2 separate regions of the Homo sapiens genome follow, and region 1 is linked to region 2. Evidence: fine-mapped expression QTL. Tissue or cell type: subcutaneous fat. Region 2 holds a variant in brackets; the other region holds the start of a gene. All regions are shown on one strand. Distances are from middle to middle.

The links. PIP is the estimated chance that this variant, and not a neighbour inherited with it, causes the effect.
Region 1: it holds the start of MYEOV, and the variant in region 2 is fine-mapped to the expression of MYEOV in subcutaneous fat (GTEx, PIP 0.96).

The regions. Positions count from the first base shown.
Region 1 is chr11:69,290,693-69,298,308 of GRCh38, reverse strand. MYEOV (myeloma overexpressed) reads right to left here and starts at 4,154. Exons shown (of 3, transcript NM_001293291.2): 1 at 3,733-4,154; 2 at 2,814-3,076; 3 at 1,022-2,717. The coding sequence starts at 2,954. The coding sequence ends at 1,917. RefSeq lists enhancers at 1-441, 407-476, 1-1,182, 442-1,304, 5,032-5,583.
Region 2 is chr11:69,356,040-69,363,655 of GRCh38, reverse strand. All of the region lies in intron 2 of LOC105369370 (a long non-coding RNA gene), which reads right to left. Among named protein-coding and RNA genes, the nearest start is that of MYEOV, 66 kb to the right of the region's middle. RefSeq lists a silencer at 3,549-3,749. The variant T/A (reference allele first, on the strand shown) is at 3,204.

The DNA of each region.
Region 1 (7,616 bases), 65 kb after region 2:
TAAGTAGGGCCCTGCCTTCATGGAGCTGACAGTCCACACTGGGGGCCGTTAACATGGGGAGCAAGTTGAATAGAGTTTGGGGTTGTTCCTTGTGTTACTATGGAGATAAATAGGTTGCTATGACGGACTGGCAGTATGTACGTGGGAGGAGGTGGCATGCAGCTGGGCTCGGAAGGAGGAGATGGGACCACCACAAAGAGCGGAGTGACGTGCATGCCAGGTGGCAGGGAGGCAGCCGGGGGAAGCAGCTCAGGATGTTCTAGGAACTCCAGAGGTTGTTGCGACGGAAGTACAAGGAATGAGGGGGCCAAGGATGAGAAGGAAGTGGTGCACGTGGGGCATTGGGGGTGGCTTGCAAAGCCCCCATTACCTTCTGAGCCCAGAGCTTGGGCAGGGCTTGTGCCCAGACAGAAAGGAAGCTTGCTGAACACCGGGGTTTCCCGCCTTGCAGATGGTCTGCTTTGGGGAAGTCACAGGTCCGTCTCCCTTGGAACAGGCAGGAAAGCCCCTCCATCCTTGGTGTCTGGGGTAGGGGAGTGAGGCAGGGCTGCTCACTCAGCCGCCTGCCTGGGACCCCTAAGCTTCCTCTTGACCCCTGACTCCTCTCCCAGGCAGGTTCTTCACCTCTCCTCCCTTGCTTGGAATGAATGGATTCTGCTGTCCCTTTAAAGGGACCTGAGTCAGAGAGTTAAGAATGAAACTGACTCATGGTAGAAGGGGTGGTCACCAGCTGGCCAGGCGCCAGGGCTGCGGCGGGAGAGGAAGCCGGGCGGCCGCAGCTGCCTGTGTGTGCTCGGCTGCAAAGGGCAGAAACCACAAAACCCCATTTGAAATTCCGCCGTGCAGCGTGTCTTGTGTAATGAGGTTACCCCTCATAATGGGGGCATTCAGGGCCCACACGGGCCTGGGGGCTGGGGGCCTGCCCCCCGGGGCCAGCTGATGCTGATGTCATCTTCAGTTAGGAGTATCCCCTCCCTTGATTAAGAACTTTAAAAAAAAAAAATGCACCAGGAAACTAGAGTGAGAGCCAGAACGGAAGTCTTGGTTTTATTTATAGTTGATAACTTACATCCGGCCTGCTCCTCAGGAAGCACAGCAGGGAGGAGACAGAGCCCAAAGGAGACGGCGACAAAAATGCCCAAACCCCTGAGCTAATGTGGTGACTGAGAGCAAGCCTAAAGCTCCCTTCTGAGCTCCCCAGCAGCCAAAGCAAAGAGAGAAACAGGGTCCTGCAGCATGATGTCACAGAAAACCAGGGACCCTGGAGCCTGGGTTCCAATAAGAACCTTACATTCTGACGCCTTAGATTTCTCCCTGGAAAATGGGGAGAAAAATACTGAATTGGTTGGGAGGGCCATGCAACACACCCAGCACAGTGTCTGGATGCATTTCAGAGGCCCCACCAGTCTAGGGTCTACAGAAAGACAGTACAGGCGCCTCACTCTCCATGCCTGTACGCATGGCAGACATCACTCATGGATTGCAACACGCTTCCCTGGAGCCAGATGCAGCCTCGTAGCCCCATTGCACAATGTCTCCAGGGGCTACCACCAATGCCCCAGTCGGCTGGAGCTGAACTTGCGTGTCCTCCCAGCCTCTAACCAGCTGAGAAAATGACCAGAAGGAGCTGGGTTATCATGATTTTCCCAGCACCTGGCTCATGCCTGCACCTGGGAGACACTCAATAAAAAATTGTCTAGTTAGGGAAGAGGCAGGGAAGAATGGGAGAAAGGAGAAGGAAGAGGAGAGGGTAGGAGAGTTGGGAGAGGAAACTTGGAACTTAGGCAACTTGTTGAGCTTCTCTAGGCCTCAGTTTCCTCATCTGTTAAGTGGGGGGTTTTAGTAGCTACCTCATGGAGTCATTCTGAGGATTAAATGAGGCTGGGCATATAAACCACTTGGCACACAGGACGTCCTCAACAAGTGAGGATGATGATGAGGAGGAGGAGGAGGAGGTGGTGGAGGAGGAGAGGAGAAGCACCTGACACTGGGGGTGGGTGCATAGTGGGCCCCACCTGGCCAGTCCTCCTAACTCCCATGCGCCACCCCCCCAGGGCCTCAACAGTCACAACAGTCAGCCAGGACCCAGCCACCCGCAGAGGCAGGCCCCAGGTGGAGCAGTGAGGGGTGGGGTGCCGGTGGAGGGTCAGGCATGCTCTTCTTCCCCTTTCATAGTCAGGGCAGCTCGATTCTGCCAGGGTCATGCAGAGTGCCCCGGCACCGGCCAGAAGTCCTCGCCCAGGTGAGCGCAGAGCCACATCCATTCGCGCCCACATAATTTCCATGGAGAGCCCATGCCGCCCATGCACCTCCTCAGGGCACGAGCTAATGGCCTGCTCAACGCCCACTCTAAAGGCTTCTCCCAGGTGAGCAACGCCCACCACCCTTGCAGACTGACTCCCAGAATTCCTGTTCCCAGTGCCACACAGAGTGCCTTGTGGTGCATCTGTGACCCTCCTGGCCCGGGACACGTCCACGTCTTCTGCCTCCTGGCTGAGCCCCGCACCTGTCTGGGCACCCTTGTCTCCCTTGTTTCTCTCCCGGTCACCAGCTCCAGCAGCAAACCACAGAGACACAAATGCTCCTCTCACCGCAACACGCAGGGCCTGGGAGAGACAGAGGCGGCCCCGGGATCTGCCGGCTTTGGAGCCCTCCACGAAGTGTCCAGCCTGCCGGGTGAACATGAGCAACGAGTCCCTGTCCCCAAGGGGGACAGACTACAGACAAGAAAACCGATGAATAAATCAGACATCAGCAGGTGGCATTCACCCACCCAAGAGAAGAGGTTACTGGGGTCAGGGAAGTGTCGGCACCTGGTGGAGGTGGAAGGTCAGGAAGGACACACCACGGAGACAATGACACCAGGAGGGAGACTGTTCCAGGCAGAGGCAACAGCGAGTGCAGAGACCTATCGGGAGAGCTGGGGTGTATGTGACGCAGATTCTGAGGGCCATGAGCCGAGGGAAGGAGCCAGACGCTGTCCTAAGTGCCAGGGGAAGTTGTTAGAGGTGTTAAGCGTGGCATGACGTGGCTGGATTTAGGGTCTGAGATGAACTTTCCTGCTCCTGAATGGACTCTGAGGAGAAGGAAGATACTACCATCCGTAATCCACCCCGGGAAGGCACTGACCTCCTTGACCATGGGGAGGATGAGAGGCCGCCGCTCTGTGCCTGGGTCCCCATGGCCTCTAGGGTCCCTTCACGTTTTCACCTCATGATCCTGGAAGCTGGGACCTGCCCAAATCCACCGGGTGGCCCCAGCCTCCCCATCTCTGGGGCAGGGGGTGGGCAGCCTTCTCCTCCTGGTTTATAGCCACAGATGACTCCAGGCACAGTGGTCCTCAACCGCCTCTAGGGACCATGGGGACGGCTGCCCTCTGTGTGTGACGGTGGCTGGGCAGAAGCCAGCTGGGCTGTCGTGGGTAGGGCCTGGAGGCCTCTGGCTGTATGGTGGTCTAGCTTTGGCACCACCTTGGGGGGCTCCGGGTAGGAGGTGTCCACCAGAGGGGACCTGGGCAGCTCAGCAGAGGCTTGGTCACTCCCGAGCCGTCTGTGGGTCCCACTGGTCTGTACCCTCAACCCCACTGACCTGCACTGGTCATGCCCAGCTCTCACAGGATGATGGCCCCAGCCTTGTAATGAGTCACCTGCTGCCCTCCTGCCCCTCCAGCTGGTCCCCCACCCAGCAGCCACAGGGCTTTCCTTAAAACATAAGAAAGACCCTGCTTCTTACCTGCTCAGATCCCACCAAGAACCGGCCACCTCACTCCAGATAAACTCCAGACTCTTCACTGAGCCCAAAGGCAACGAGCAGAAGTGTCCAGAAATCACACAGAGCTCAGCAGGTGGTGAGGCACCTGGACCCGAGTCACCCAGCAGCTGAACAGGCCATCCCTGAGGCCATGCACGCCCCGGCCCTGCAGGTGTGACGGCCGAGGCTTCCACGACGGGGGGTGAGTGGGAGCTAATATGGCTGGTGAAAGCACTGGGTTCAGTGGGGATGGCATCTCCCGCCCTCTGTCCAAGGTGGGGAAAAAGTCAGCTTCAGGTGAGGGAGACCCTGGACGCCTGGCTTTGGGCTGATTCCCCACTCACTTGGCCTCTCCCAAGCATACTTTCCTGCTTTGTAGGGATGTGGGTTCGCGGGACAGTAACAGGAGAATCAAGGCAAGAACTCAGAGGGGGATAGCCAAGGTAGGCGGAGCTGCCTGGTGGGTGGGACTAACCCAGGTGGGTGGGGCTGCTTGTGAGTGGGGCTAGCCCAGGTGGGTGGGGCTGCCTGGTGGGCAGGGCTTTCTTCCCCGTCAACATTTCCCTCTCTCGGTTAAGGCCAGGGCAGAGCCCACACATGGGTGTGCCCAACCTTAAGGCCTGCCCTGGGTGAGTTAAGACTCCCCAGCTCACCTAGGTCCTACCTGAGGGGAACCTACACGGCCAACCTCCTCAAGGATCCTGAAGCCACCCAGAAGACAGTGGGGCTAGGGTGCCATTCATTCATTCATTTATTCATTCACCTATTCATTTATTTACTCGCTTCACCACCCTTTCCTGGGTAATATTAAGAATAACAGTGGGCCTAGGAATATAGAACATTCTTAGGGGTTTCTTGCAGGCCAGGCACCCTAAGAAAAAGTTATGTAACCCACGTGGCCTCGCTGTGAGGGGGACGACTGCTGTCCTCACTTAATAGATGAGGAGCTGAGCCATGGAGGCCTCACAGCTGGGCAGCTGGGGGTGGACCCCATAGACTGGAGGGGGATGGGCAGGGGCAAGGAGTTCTGCTGGCCCCAGGCCTCTTGTACACATCTTGGGAAGTACTAAAAATGAGTACTTGCTCAAGTCCCTCTCTTCATTGAGCACAGGGAGCTCTTGGCCCTTCCCTCCTCCTCCCTTTACCCTCACCGCCCAATTCCACACGGGTGTACTGAGCACTTGCTAAGGGCCAAGACCAGCACTAGGTGGAGCACACAGTAGGAACCCAAGGCAGCCCTCCCTGCCCAGCTCTCCAGGACACTGTCGTCAATGCCAGCGGGAAGCATAGAGAGGCCAGGGAAAGACGGGCAGTCAGGAGGAAGGAGCCAGCGGAGGGGAGAGAGGGCCGGCAGCTCAGTGCACCTGGACCGTGGTGGATGCTGGACTATGACCAGAGACAGGGCTGCAGCCCAGAGCTAGCCCCAGACCCACAGGGCCTCAGGGGGCTTCACAGGCTTTGTCAGGGGTTTGGACTTTCTCCCGAGGGCTGGGGACCCTGCAAGTTGCAGAAACTGGGCTATATTTGGCATTTTAGAAGCCTCCCCCAGCTGTAGTGGAGGGGAATTGGAGGGAGTGGGAGAGGAGGTTCCCATTCTCACTCAGGTGGGAGATGGTGGTGGGATGGAGGGTGACCCTGATTGATAGGACTCAGGGACAAATTAAAGGTGAGGGCCAGGGAGAGGGTTATCCAGACAGCTCCCAGGAAGATGGCAGTGGGATGGAGGGTGACCCTGATGGGACTCAGGGACAAATTAAAGGTGAGGGCCAGGGAGAGGGTTATCCAGACAGCTCCCAGGAAGATGGTGACACCAGTGAGGTGGGGAGATAGGATGGCATTTGGTTCCCACTGAGCTGGAGATGCCTGTACAAAGCTTCTAAGATACCCAAGGCAGAATCTGCAGCTCCTGCAAAGACAAGAGCTCTGCTCTGCCTCCAGGGAATCAGGGGAGGTCTCCCCAGTGCCCTACTGGGACCTCCAGAGACCCTATGCGAGCCTCCCCCAACCCAACCACCAGCCCATCAGCGCCACCTACCGGCTGCTCAGGGCAGGCACTCAGCAACTTGCTGAGGGCAGATCCTGATGTGTCCCCGTTTTACAGATGAGGAAACTGAGGCCAGGAGACAAGATGACGCCTGTTTGAGGTTACGTAGAGGTGGAGGTGGCATAAGACCTCAGTTCTTCCTGGCAGATCCTCTCCAAAGAGCCCCGTCTGAGAGCAGATGGAAGGAGGTGGTGTCAGGAGATACCTTATCTTACTTTTGTCTGCTGTCAGCATTCCAACAACCCTAGATTATTTTGGCACCCCGCAGTGTCACTCAGTCTCACCATAGCCTCACTCTAATTATCAAAGCTCATCTTTTGGGCTGATATCTGCTTCTGGGACTCCCAGTAGCCCACCTGGGTCCTGCTGGGGAGGACTGTAGAAATCTGACTGCCCCAGGTTGATTTTCTCCCTCTGTCTTCAACATTCAGATTGCCAGCCCACCTGTTAAATCATGATGAGTTGGTGATGGTGATGGTGATGGTGATGATAGTGATGATGGTGATAATGATGGCGTTGATGATGGTGATGATAATGGTGATGATGGTGGTGATGGTGATGGTGATGATGGTAAGGATGATAATGGTGATGATGATGGTGGTGATGATGGTGATGACGGTGATGGTGATGATGGTGGTGATAATGATGGTGATGACGGTGATGGTGATGAAAGTGGTGATGATGGTGGTGATGATGGTGAGGATGATAATGGTGATGATGGTGGTGGTGGTGATAGTGATGATGATGATGGTGAACATGGTGAGGATGATAATGGTGATGATGGTGGTGGTGATGATGGTGATGATGGTGGTTATGATGATGGTGATCATGATGGTGAAGATGATAATGATGATGATGGTGGTGGTAATGATGGTGATGATGGTGGTCTGATGATAATGTTGGTGATGATGGTGATGATGGTGGTGATGATGATGGTGATGGTGATGATGGTGGTGATAATGATGGTGATGGTGATGGTGATGATGGTGATGATGGTAATGATGATGATGGTGATGATGGTAATGGTGATGACGGTAATGATGATGATGCTGGTGATGATGATGATGATGGTGGTGATGATGATAATGGTGAGGATAACTTGTACTGAACATGCACCACATGTCAGTAGTTTTCCCACACTATTTCATTTAATCCTCATGACAACTTTATGGCTAGGACTACTGTTATCCCCATTTTACAGAGGAGGAAACTAAAGTGTACAGTGGCTCAGTCACATAGCAAGTTAGCAGTGGAACCTAGGGGCACCCAGGCAGTTGCACCAAGACCTGCTCCTAACATTACCCTATACTGCTTTTGGCTCAGCCTACAGAGCTGTCTTTGTGACCCCTTCTCTGACACTCCTCCTCTGAGCCAAAGGGCAGCTCCTCCCATCATCCATATCAGTCTGACTGCTCTTTCGCAGTAAGACACAATGAGGAAGCCAAAGACTCTAAAGGGAGGGGCACAGGGATGCCAGTTTCCCTCAGAGCACTGCCAAGGAGGGACCACAGCTCCAATGGCGTGGGCATATGATGTTCCACCTGCCACAACTCCATGCCCAACTCTCCTGCTCTGAGGGATCAGGCTTGGCCCTGACCCTTCTGCCTGTGAGCAACTGGTGAGCAGCCAGCCCAGGTTGCAGCCACCAGCATGTGGGCACTGGTCAGCACAAGGCATGTCTCCTGTCCAGTACTCAGGGCCTCGCTGGCCACAGTTGGACTCTGAAAGATTCCTGATGTGGACTCAGATGTGTTTGAGCCTAAAAACATGCTTTTCATTGGTCCCACCCTACTTCAAACAAAACAGAAGCCTGGGTTGTTCT
Region 2 (7,616 bases):
GATCTCGTAAGTGGTAAATCCTATTTTATCTTATTTTATTGTGGTAAAAAACATTTACCATGAGTTCTATCCCCTTGACAGATTTTTAAATGCCCAACTCAGTCTTATCTTTAGACATAATGCTGTATAGAGATCTCTAGAACTTCTTCATCTTGCGTAACTAAAATTGATACTGGGTGATTAGCACCCATCTTACCAGCCACCCCTAGCACTCACCATTCTAGTCTTTGCTTCTGCGAGTTTGACTACTTTAGCTACCTCATGTACATAACATACTATATATTATGGTATATATAGTATATTTACAAAAAAGACTACATATTATGGTATATATAGTATATTTACATAATATATTACATGTAAAATATATGGTGTATTTTATATAAATATACTATATAATAATATATTGTCTATACTATATATTATAATATATAGTATATACACACTATATATTATATTATATATAGTATATATAATGTATATAGTATATATATAATGTATATAGTATATACACACTATATATTATAATATATAGTATAGATAGTATATAATTATATAATTATATAATTTATTATATATTATATTGTACATTGTATATTGTACATATAAATTTATATTAATACATATATAATAGATTATATATTATATATTTATATTGTATATTGCATTTAGAATATATTATGTATTTATTATATATTATATATAATATAGTACATATCATTATAATATAGTATATATTATATCATATATTGTACATATATAATACATTATATATAATAAATGTCGTATATATACACCACATTTTTAAAAACCCACTCATCTGTCAAAGTAAGTGGTAAATTCTATTAATATTTTGGGTCCAAACATGTCTTTATGTCACCCTTGCTCTTGAAGGATAGTGTATCAGCTATATAAGCACCATTTGATCATCATTTTTTCTCAACCTTTGTATCATTTCTGTTGTTTTCTGGTTTCTATTTTTACTGTCAGCCTAATTGGGCTCCTTGGCATGTCATCTGCTTTACTTTTCTATCAGATGAATTTATGAGTCCTCAACACTGGGGCCACCATGCTTTGCTCCTGTGCCCCTCCTTCTTTCTTTCTCCAGAAACTTGCCACTAGGTGGAAGCCAGAGTGGTTGTCATACCCACTTTGTGTGTTTCCCTCTCCCGGGGGCCCCAGTCCTGCTCTACCTGTTGGCATTGTGTTTAAAAAAATCGTTATTTCGTCCATTTTATCTCATTTTCTAGTTGTTTCAATGGGTGAATTAACCCAACCCTTTTCATGACCATGGCCCAAACAAAGAAGTCTCAAGACATGGAGCTTTAATTTAACTTTTAATTTTTAGAAATTCTATTTGGTTCATTTTGAAACATATCTATTTCATCTTCATGATGACTTGCCATTTCCGTGTTTTCAACTCCTCCTTGTAGTTCCTTGAACATTAAAAATGTATTATTCTATCGTCTTCACCTGCAAACATCAGTGCCTTTGAGGTTTTAAACCCATGCATGCTGATTCTACTCCTGGTGATCAGTTCCTTTGTGTTTGTAATTTATTATTGTGAGCTCATCTTCCGATGGACTTTATTTATAGAAATCCCAGATGGTCCTGAAGTCTCTCTGGTGAGGTTTTGGGTTTGATTCTTCTAGATGCCCCATGGGTCACTGGTTCAGGCTCACTCTCTATGGTAATTTCTTGACTTGAGAGTTACCAGGCCATAAGGTAAATAGAGGCATTTCAATCTGAATGCAGTCTGAAGACAGACCAATGATGATGGGTTCCTAGTAGAGAGGTTTTTCTTCCCCTGTCAACTTCATTTCATTTCCCTGAGCCAGTGGGCAGACTTACCTCCTTTACCCGTGTCCTGAGAGGGAGGCACTTTGTGAACACTGGCTCCCCATGGGGTGCTCAGCTCTGACTCTGCCCCACATGGGACAGGAGCCTCATCCCTGGCCCCTTCCTGGCTGTTGAGCACGGCTGCAGCCTCCGGGGAACCACAACCAGCGATCCCTCCCAGGTCTTCTGCGGCCTCACCCCACAAACTTCCCACCCTTCGCTTTAATTCTGTCTTTATTTCCACACCGCAGAGATTTCCCTTGTTTTCTCGTGCCCCTTAGCTATGCACTGAAAAGGATGTTAGTTAAAATGTATACAACATTTCTGAACGTTGCATAGAGGAAAGGCATAGAGCTAATCTGTACTTCCATGTCGCTGAAGGCAGACGTCTTTCCTGTAATATTCATTATGCCCTCATTAAGTAGGTGCTATTCTTGCCCCCATATGTATAGACGAGGAAACTGAGGGACAGAGGGGTTAAGTGACTAGGCCAGAAGTCCACAGCTACCAGAGGCAAAGGCCAAGATTTGAATCCAGGCTGTCTGGTGTCAAAGTCCAGGTTTTTTCCACTGGGCTTGCTGCTTCCAGGGGCCCCAGTGCTGCCAGTGAGGGCTGCCAAATAAAGTAAAGGATGCGGCTGGGTGGGGCTGTGTCACCCATGGGAGATAAAGGAGAAAGGACATGTTACATCTTCTAGGAAGCTTCCTTAAACAGGCGAGTAGCATGCACTTTCTTCGATCCTTTGTCCATACAGTATTTAGGTTATACTAAAACTTTTGTTGTTTATCAGAAATTCAGATTTAACTGGGCATCCTGTATTTTTATTTGGAGTGAAATCTGGCACCCTGCTGCCAGCTGCGGTTAGGAGCCGTCAGGCCTGCCCCAGCCAGGCTGATGCACATTTCCGGGCATTTGCAGCACAGCATCTCAAGGCTTGGTGGCTGTACTCCTTGTCCATCTGATTGAGGGGCCAGGGTGATCACCCACAGGATGCCTGCCCCAGCCCCTCATTCAGGGTGGCAGCCACTGCCCCTGTTTAGCTCAAACAACAGCCCCAGGCACCTGCCCCTGCTTAGCTCAAACAACAGCCCCAGGCACTATGGGAGGCTCCTGCTCCTTGCTGTCATCTAGAGGGGTTGGGACCTCATGATTGGTGTTGTCCAAGGCAGGGGCTTCCCCAAGGATCCCACTGGGAGGATTGGGGGCACACTTCCCCGACCTCTACCATGGGGAAGGGAGGAAAAAGTCCTAAATTTGGAGTAAATATGGGAGCAAACCCACAATGCCAAGAGGGACCCAGCAGGGGCAGCTGAGCCTCAGGTCTGGGGACATTCTCAGCTCCATCCTGAGCCCCCACAGCATGG[T/A]GAGGAGGATTGCAAACTGGGCCAACCTTTCTGAAGGGCAATTTCTCAATTCATGTCCAAATGTCAAAAGTGTATCCTCTTTGACTCAGCATTTCTACTTCTGGGAACTTACGGGAAGGAATGTTCCAACCCGGTGCAAAGATGATACATCCAGGGGTGTCAGGGGCTGTAATACCAGAAAACTGGCAATGGTCTGCATGTCTGTTGATACTGGTGAAATCATCAAACCTCTGCCTGATGGAATTGCAAGCAGCCTTTAAAAATCTGTGAATCTTTATTTGTGGGCGTGGGAAGCTACCTGTGATCCCCTTTACAGTGAAAAAGACACATGGCCCACCTGTAGTAAAGACCATCTATCTGGACTCTCTTGCAGCTAGGTGTGGCCATGTTACACATGGGAAAAGAAGATAAAGAAAAGGACATATTGTAGCTTCCAAAAGTCTTCCTTAAAAGGCAAGTGACATGCACTTTGTTCATCCCTTCTTTTTTCTTGCTGCCTGGGACTTGGACGTGATGGCTGGAGCTCTGGCTGCTGTTTTGGACCCAAAGGCAAGAACCATACCTCCAGGTTAACGGCTCAGAGAATAGTCAGGAGGTGACTGTCTCCAAAGGCTTTGCAGAGCAGGACCAACCACCTCCTATCCCATTTCTAGACTCTCACTTGAGAGAGAAAGCAATTTCTGTGTTGTTTAGTCCACTGCTATTTGGGGAGGTGTCTATTATTCACACTAGAACCTAACCCTGACTAATATAAGTAGTTTCTTTGGCAGGTGAGATTTGTAGGGATTTAAATGTTCTTTTAGATTTTTTTGTTTCTTTTGCATGTATGTCTTGAACATTTATCTGTCATTTATATTGTTTAAAAAAACTTGATTTCAAAGCAAATAAGGAAAAAATAAAGAAATCTGACAAACACCCAGCTCTTACAGTGAGCCAGCCACTGTTCTGAGGACTTTACATGAACTCTCTTGAGTCTTCACAGCAGTCCTGTAGGGTGCGTTAGTATCCCCATTTTACAGAGGGAGAAACTGAGGCACAGGGCAGTTGAGTCCCTTGTCTGTGGTGCCTCAGCCAGATGATGAGAGCATGCAGGCAGCTCCATGGGAGCATGCAGGCAATCCATGACCTCGATCATGATGCCACCCTGCCACCCTGGAGACCTCCAGCCTCAGAGGCTACCCAGGCCTAGGCTCCTACCTTCTTCTCTCCCACCATTTGAGGCTCTTCCCCAGAGCTGCTTTGGAAAGTACCTTAAGTTCTGGGCTGCCTTAGCCAGGGGCATAGGCCATGGAGTTGGCCAAATTCATTCCTCTCTTCATTCATTCTACAAACATTTCTGAGTGCCCACCCTACATCTGCCACTGTGCTGGGCACAGGGATGAAGTGGTGGGCAGGAAGGCATGGGCCTCACCCTCAGTCAGATGTTAGAAGACAGCCCTGTGTGGCATTGCTGCTCCTATAGAAGAGGCCCCTGGGGGACATGGGGGTGGCCTTAGCCAGGGAAGTCAGAGGCAGCTTCCCCGGAAGGGACACGTGATCTGGGATCCGAGGCAGGGGTGGGAGTTACCTGTGTGACGGGGGACGGGGAAGATGCTAGCTGGAGGGGATGGCATGTGCTAAGGCCCTGTGGCAGGAGGGGTTAGCCCACACACCCATACACACCCCCTCATTCCATGCCCACCACAGCCCACCCTCTGCACCCTCCTCCAAGAAGGCAGACAAGTCACCCGTCCTTCCCCAAGGCTGGAGGACAAAGACCTGTCCAGGTGCATCTTGCCAGGGAGCCTGGAGCTGTGCTCTAGCCTGGACCTGCCTGCAAAGGGGGAGGGGGCCCCAGAAGAGCAACCCACCCATTCCCCCCACCACGGAGCCCTTCCAACACCCCCAGGGCCTCTCAGGCTGGCACTGGGTGGTCAGCCTCACAACTCACTGCTCAGTCCCTGAACACTGTGAGAAGTAGGCATAAGAACCCCATTTTCTTCAAGGAAAGAACTGGGTCCTTGAGGGAATAGGGGCTGGCTCACGCATGGGGTTACAGGAAAGGAAGCCCCATGTGTGGCCTGTCCTCGACCCCACAGTGAGGACTGGTGACGGAAGAGTGAGGGCACCAGCCAGATCCTGCCTCTCAACTGTGGCTTCATTAAAATACATAGACACATGCACACTCACACACACGCACACACCTGCACCTGCACATGCACACACAGGCACACACATGCACACACTCGCACGTGCACACATGCAAACACATGCAGACACACACCAGCACCTGCACATCCACACACTCGCACATGCACACACATGCACACACACACACACACCTGCGCATGCACACACACATGCACACGCATGCACCCCTTATATTCATGCCTTTATGGGCTCACAGTTGGTGCGAACTGTGAGCAGAAGGTTTGCAGGGGGCTAGATCCGGCTCTGGCCCTCCCTGGCTGTCACCTCCAGCAAGTGTCCTCCTTCTCTGTGGGACCCATTTCCCCACCTGCAGCGTGGGCACCCCGACAGCCTCTACCTCCTGGGCTTGCTTCTGGAGGATGAAAGCAGTCCCATGCCGAGTCCCTGGTGCAAGGGACAGCTCAGAAGGAGGTCACCATTGTTACTCTGCCCCTCTGAGGCTATTGTGGTCACCCTGTCCCACTGCCCTGGACTGGCTTGGGGGCCAGGCTGGCATGATCATGCTGCTCTAGGCTGGCAGGTGGAGCATTCCCAGCCCCGGTTCCAAGGTCCCCCGAGGCGCTGACAACACTTGGAGGGAGACCATGCAGGCTGGGCTTCCTGACCACCCAGACCCTTCAGGACCACCCCCCATCCCACCCCACCATGGATGTGGCAAAGGCCCTGCCTTGGCAAGCCTTCCCCAGACCCTCTGCTCTGCTGGAGCTCCAGAGCCTCCCAAACGGGGCCCCCAGTTCCTGCCATGAAGACCTGAGGTTGAGGCGGCCTTGGGAGGCCTTGGCATGATCTGGGGCCCCTTTGGGCCTGAGTGGCCACTAACTCCGTGGCTTCTTGTGTTAAATGTCATTCACATTTGTCACCCCATCGTGCCCCTAGTTCAACTCACACCAACTGCAACATGTTTCCAATGGGGGTCGCACTGCCCCAACTTCCTGAGACACTTATCTGACCCAGTCACTCTCCCTCTCAATCCTTCAATAGCTCCCTATTGCCTTCAGTCTCAATGCTGTCTCTGCATCCCAGGCAGCCACACAGCAGGGGCTCTGTACCCGTCTGCTGCCTTGGAGGGTGGGGAAGGGGCATCTGCCCCACATGTGGCCCCACCTGTCAGGTTTCCCCGATGCTCAGATGTGCACCAGCTCCCATGGGAGGGGAAAGGAGTGTGGGGGCGAGACTTTCAGCCTGTGCTCCCAGCAGCAGTGTTTCAAAAGAGTTTGTTTTCTTTCAAAACAGAATATATCGAGCGTCCGGCCGGCCAGTGGGTCTGGGGCCAGAGACCAGAGAAGTGCTGCAGGCACTGGGCATGCTGAGTGACATCACCATGGGCCGGTGCTGGCAGGGGCTGGGCCAGACCACAGGCAGCGGGTAGTGCAGAGCCCTCCCCGAGCTGGGCCAGGTCTGGCACAGGGGTCCCAACCCTAGTGGGTTCCCAGATAGGGGCTGAAGAGTCCCTGAGTCCCCTGAGCTCCCGGTGGACTCCACTGTCTCAGTGTGCCAGCCCAGTCTTCACTCCACCCACTGGGGTGCTCCTGGGCAGTGGGCAGACCTCCCGCTCTGTCCTCCTGGCCCAGCATGGAGGTCTTCGGGGGCGGGAGAACAGTGAGGTAGTCCCCCTTTACCTGCGGGTGCACTGTGCCTCGTCAATCAGTCTTCCAAGCAGCCTTTGAAACTGCTTCCCTCTCTACAGACGAGGAAACTGAGGCTCACAATGCTTACTGTACATGCTTAGAGTCCAGTGTTTCCTCTTCCCTCCCTCCCTTCCTTCCTCCCTCCTTCTTTCCTCCCTCCTTCCCTCCTTCCTTCCTCCCTCCTTCCCTCTCTCCTTCTTTCCTTCTATTCTTCCCTCCCTCCCTCCATCCATCTTTCTTCCCTCCCTTCCTTCCTCCCTCCTTTCCTTCCCTCTCTCTTCCCTCCCTCTTTCCCTCCTTTCTCGCTCCTTCCTTCCTTCTCTCCTCCCTCCCTCCCTCTTTCCTTCCTTTCTTCCTTCCATCCATCCTTTCCTCCTTCTCCTCTCCCTCCCTCCCTTCTTTCCTCCCTCCTTCTTTCCCTCCCTACTCCTCTCCCTCCCTCCTTCCTTCTCTTCATCCTCCCCCTCCCTCTTTCCTTCCTTTCTCTCCCATCCCATCCTATTGTACAATAATGTAATAATGCTTCGCTGGGCACGTGGCCTCCCAGATAAACACTGCATTTCCCAGACTCCCTTGCAACACATCCCAGCCATGA